Regions from separate parts of the Homo sapiens genome. Here region 2 is linked to region 1. A link means that fine-mapping ties the variant in region 1 to the expression of a gene that starts in the linked region. Tissue or cell type: prefrontal cortex. Region 1 holds a variant in brackets; the other region holds the start of a gene. All regions are shown on one strand. Distances are between the middles of the regions.

The links. PIP is the estimated chance that this variant, and not a neighbour inherited with it, causes the effect.
Region 2: it holds the start of KIF25, and the variant in region 1 is fine-mapped to the expression of KIF25 in prefrontal cortex (CommonMind, PIP 0.95).

The regions. Positions count from the first base shown.
Region 1 is chr6:167,791,665-167,794,349 of GRCh38, forward strand. The region is part of intron 1 of LINC01558 (long intergenic non-protein coding RNA 1558); the gene reads right to left. Among named protein-coding and RNA genes, the nearest start is that of LINC01558, 3.9 kb to the right of the region's middle. The variant C/A (reference allele first, on the strand shown) is at 1,534.
Region 2 is chr6:167,996,508-167,999,192 of GRCh38, forward strand. It overlaps KIF25 (kinesin family member 25), which reads left to right and starts at 1,164. Exons shown (of 13, transcript NM_030615.4): 1 at 1,164-2,363; 2 at 2,585-2,685. KIF25-AS1 (KIF25 antisense RNA 1) reads right to left here and starts at 570. Exons shown (of 4, transcript NR_103750.1): 1 at 399-570; 2 at 1-94.

The sequences.
Region 1 (2,685 bases):
AACTTACGTCATTAATTTGCATTGGCATCTGACCATTTTGTGAAATGTGGAGTTTCTGAGGGCGGCAAGGCACCTAGAGTCCAGCAGCTTCCTGTGCTGCCCACTCTGGCAGAGACCCCAGGCAGAGAAGAAGGCGGCAGAGAGGTAGACTAGCTGATGAAATTTCTGATTTTGTAACTCAAGCCTTCTTTCTCATTAATTTTTTTCACTTCTCCCTTTTTATGGAAATAGAACATACATACAGAAAGTACACTTAAAGTATCAGCTTGATGAATTTTCACAGCCTGCACTCAGCCTCATCAGCAGAGCCAGATGAACAACCTGAACACACAGCAGCCCTGAACCCTCTGCGGGCCACTCCCAGGCACCAAGCTCTGGCACCCTCACTTCTGAAGGCAGAGAGTGATGTGCCTGTGTTTTTGCACTTTATACGAATATATTTTGTCTTACATCTTAATTGCATATGTTATTTATCCCCAAGTTCCCTGAGGACAGAACCATGTCCTTCTTGTTCCTTCCTGATCAGTTCCTGGCGGGTGCGGGGTGGCGGCTCTTGGGATGAGTGCACGCTTGGTAGTGAAGGGGTGGCTGCGCCTGGACCAATCCGCTCTCTCTCTCAACCTCCCTGTGCTTGACAGGCTGCGGGCATGGCTGTGGGACACCATCAATGATTACTCTCCCTTTAACCCTTTCAGAATCAGCAACACAAGCAGTGCTTTAAACCCAAAAGGTCCCTTAGCACCAGGTCATAGAGATTTTGCAAAAGCCGTGGGATACGGAGCTGGTACAAGTGGAGTCTCTCTTATTCGAAATGCCTGGTACCAGAAGTGTTTTGAGTGTTTTATTGTTTCGTATTTTGGAATATTTGCGTATACATAATGAGACATCTTGGAGATGCTACCCAAGTTGAAACACAAAATAAATTCATGCTTTATATACACATAGCCTGAGGTAATTTTATACAATATTTTTAATAGTTTGTAAATGTAATGAAATTTTGGTTACATTGTGACTGCAACCTGTCACATGAGGTGATATGGTTTGGCTGTGTCCCCACCCAAATCTCAACTTGAATTGTATCTCCCAGAATTCCCACATGTTGTGGGAGGGACCAAGGGGGAGGTGATTGAATCACGGGGGCCGGTCTTTCCTGTGCTGTTCTCCTAATAGTGAATAAGTCTCATGAGATTTGATGGCTTTATCAGGGGTTTCTGCTTTTGCTTCTTCCTCATTTTCCTCTTGCTGCCACCATGTAAGAAGTGCCTTTTGCCTCCCGCCATGATTCTGAGGCCTCCCCGGCCATGTGGAACTGTAAGTCCAACTAAACCTCTGTTTCTTCCCAGTTTTGGGTATGTTTTTATCAGCAGCATGGAAACAGATTAATACATGAGGTCAGGTGTGGAATGTTTCACTTGTGGCATGAGGTTAGTGCTCTAAACATTGTAGATGTCAGGGCATTTGGGATTCCAGGTTTTTGAATTAGGGAGGGTCAGCCCGTATGGCAAAAAGCCAGGTGCAGCAGCCTCCAGTCTG[C/A]AGGCCTGAATATTGGGCTGCTAATGCAGGAGAAGGCAAGATTGATCTGATGTCAAATATTGAAGCTGAAATGTGTCAGTGCCCATGTGGATCAATGTTTCATGTGAGGACAATGCTGACATTTTTCTAACCAGCTGGATCATTTTAAACCATTGTGCTGAAAAAAAGACAATCAAAGAATTATGATTTTTTTTAAAAATCTCCCTAGCCTGTAAAGTTTAACACTGAAACACAGTCCTTAAGAATATCTTCTTCTAAGTGTGGTGTACAAAGTCCATTTCTGCAGTGGTTTGAGGCTGATGTGCTTCTACAAGATGGTGTTGTGGTCTGGCCTAGCTATGCAGATCCTTTTGTTTCTGTTTCTGGAAATATGTCAGGCATGTTGCCCTGTTGGTGTAATTTCCTTTAATTCATCCTCGGTCACCGTTTTCCAGGGCCTCTGGGCATGGGCGTTGATAACCTACGCCTGGTAACACCAACGTCTGTGAGCCCAGCCTGACAATGATTCTACCACCTGTCGATGGAGCAGGTTTCAGTGTAAACAAGCGTGTGAATAACTGCTGAAATATTGACGCTTTATTGCCTCCACGGAGGCCACAGTTTCCTTTATTTTATGATGGTACTTGAAATAATGTTTGATAAGAACCTGCCCAAAAGTCCTCCTCACATGGAGCATCTTAGAGTTTCAAAAGAAAATTGTTGAGGTTTCTGTTCAAATTCCAGAAGATCCAACTAGAGCCTGGGAGTCATCATCATGCTTCTGGTGGATTTTCTCCTGCTCACATCACAGAGTGTGATTCTGAGACCCCTCTAGCTGTCCCAGTCCCCTATGCCCAAATTAATTCATTCACTTCAGTGCTTCGAAAACTGTCTTTAATTCTCACAAGCCCCAAGTTGATGCATTCTTCTGAAATCCTTGCTTGATGACACTAAGTATCCATTCCCTGCCATTCTCTGTCACCACACGCTTTATATTTTTTCATTGCACATAGTAAAATATGTAATTTTATATTTGCTTTTCATTTTACTTTCCATCTCCTTCACCAATATGGAAGCTCCAGGAAGGGAGAGGCGATGGACTTTCTTCCCCTGTTGTTTTGCTACCATCACGCACACAACGCCTGAATTATAGTCGCTGCTCAATAAACATCT
Region 2 (2,685 bases), 200 kb after region 1:
GGTAAAATGCCTCCGTCCCTTTGTCCTTTCAGCATGCCAGTCAAAGGTGGCGCACCTGGAGCGGGCCTTGCAGGACGTCAGTGCGCGTCACCAGCTGGAGAGGCAGAGAAGGAAGGTCCCGCACAACAGCCTGGTGGTGGGTGTGGGCGTCAGGGGAGACCTGGGGCGGCCCCGGGGAGAGGCCCACGCAGAACGTGCAGAAGCCTCCTCGCCGGAGGGACAGCGGGAGGGACAGCGGGGGGACAACAGGGGGGACAGCGGGGGGGGGACAGCGGGGGTGTGACAGCGGGGGGGACAGCGGGGGGGGACAGCAGGGGTGGACAGAGAGGTGGACAGCAAGGGGGACAGCGGGGCGGCCTGGCCGGAGGGCAGAGGGGCAGAGCTGCGGGGGCTGCGACCTGCGTCCTCTTCACCCAGGAGGCGATGGCAGCTGGAGGACGGGTGAGGGCGCCGCAGGCTGATTTAGGCTTTCGGGGTCACTCTGGCTGCTCGGTCGGGAGGCCACGACGGGGAGCAAAGGGGATGGCTGCAGTGTCACGGGGGCTGGTGGCCTGGGCCACATTGGTGGCGATGCAGGAAGTGGGACCGGCTGCTGTGAGGCACAAGGAAAGAGCTGTAGCGGGCAGTTGGGGGCGGGGGAATCTGCAGAGATGGGGGCGGGGGAATCTGCAGAGATGGGGGCGGGGGAATCTGCAGAGATGGGGGGCGGGGGAATCTGCAGAGATGGGGGGTCGGGGGAATCTGCAGAGATGGGGGGCGGGGGAATCTGCAGAGATGGGGGGTCGGGGGAATCTGCAGAGGTGGGGGCGGGGGAATCTGCAGAGATGGGGGCGGGGGAATCTGCAGAGATGGGGGCGGGGGAATCTGCAGAGATGGGGGGCGGGGGAATCTGCAGAGATGGGGGGCGGGGGAATCTGCAGAGATGGGGGGCGGGGGAATCTGCAGAGATGGGGGGTCGGGGGAATCTGCAGAGATGGGGGGCGGGGGAATCTGCAGAGATGGGGGGCGGGGGAATCTGCAGAGATGGGGACTTGCGCGGGAAAAGCAAGGATTTTGCTGTAACTGGAGATGCCGGTGGAGACTGCCCCTGCCCCTGCCCCTGCCCCTTCCTCACCAGCACCTTCCACCCACGTCTCTCACTGCCCATTAACAAGACCCAGAGGCTCTCGTGCTTTCTTGGTCGAAGGTATGAGACCTGAGATCCCATGAAATTTAATGTAAAGTCTCAGGGTTTGATTTTGCAACACGAGGATGCCAAGGTGGATGATTGAGTGGGTGACCCTCGCTTCTGTGAGGTTTGATTTTGATGGTTGCACTTTGGCCAGTTTCTCCGAATTCCACCTGCCCGAGGCCCACGAAGCCAGTGTTCCTGCGAAGCTTCTCTTCCCTGGCCATGCCGAGAGGTTCTCCAGCTGTTAGATGTGTCAAAGAATAATTCTCATTTTAAGCATCTACTTATGTAGTTCAGTGCTCCAAACATTGATATAAGAGAACATTTATTGAGTGCTTCCTGTGTACCAAGTACTTTTGAAACCATTTGGTGTATTTTCTTATTTAATCTTCACAATAGCACCACCTCTCTGGGTTGCTATAAAGACAAAGGGAGATATCAGTGAAGCACCTGGCACTTCAGAAAGTCTCACTACGCTGCAGCTTTTTTTTTTTTTAATCTGGAGCATGAAAAAGATAATATGAACCTTCCTAAGATGGAGTCAAGTCCCACAAGGAAGAATTGGTTGTGGAAGTTTCTGAGTGTTCCACCTCAAGCCTGGTCTCCTGGTCTAGCTGAGGAGCGTGCAGTGCGCGGCCCATGGAGAATATGCAGGCAGAGGCTGATCCCAGCTTCTGTGGGTTCATAGAGACCAGACGGAGGCTGTAAATCATTGGCCTATGACACCCACTTGGTTTTCAAAATGTAGAAGGAGCTGCTCAGCATGACAGGGTGGATAAACTTGCTGTGGATCCAAGACAAGATTTCAGAATGGATTTGGCAAGTTCTGAGCACATACGGAGAAGATGTGTTGCTCACTGGAAACCAGTGGAGTTTATGAGAATAAAAAGCTTCTAATTTCCTTCCAGTCATTAAATCAAGGAAATATGACAGATACTGAATTTCCAAAATCCCCTCTAAAATGCCTAAAATGTCGAGCCCAGGATGCCATTCAAAGGGATTTTCCTTGGTACTTATTACCAAGGGATACCCCTTTGCCAAGTGAACACATTTGTGAAGTATGAATCCAGAAGTTTAAAATAACTGTTCATGGCCGGGCACGGTGGCTCATGCCTATAATCCCAGAACTTTGGGAGGCCGAGGCGGGCGCATTACCTGAGGTCAGGAGTTCGAGACCAGCTTGGCCAACATGGTAAAAACCCTTCTGTACTAAAAATACAAAAATTAGCTGGGCGTGGTGGTGGGCACCTGTCATCCCAGCTACTCTGGGGGCTGAGGCAGGAGAATCACTTGAACCTGGGAGGCGGAGGTCGCAGTGAGCTGAGATTGCATCACTGCACTCCAGCCTGGGCGACAGAGCAAGACTCTGGCTCAAAAAATAAATAAATAAAATAACTGTTCACTACCCTGCAGGGGTCTTTCGAAGTGGAGACAGGTGCTGCAGATCTCACGGCCGCGTCTCAGGAGCTGGTGCCCGGTGCACGTTCAGTGGGGGATGCTCCGCAGTGCAGGCT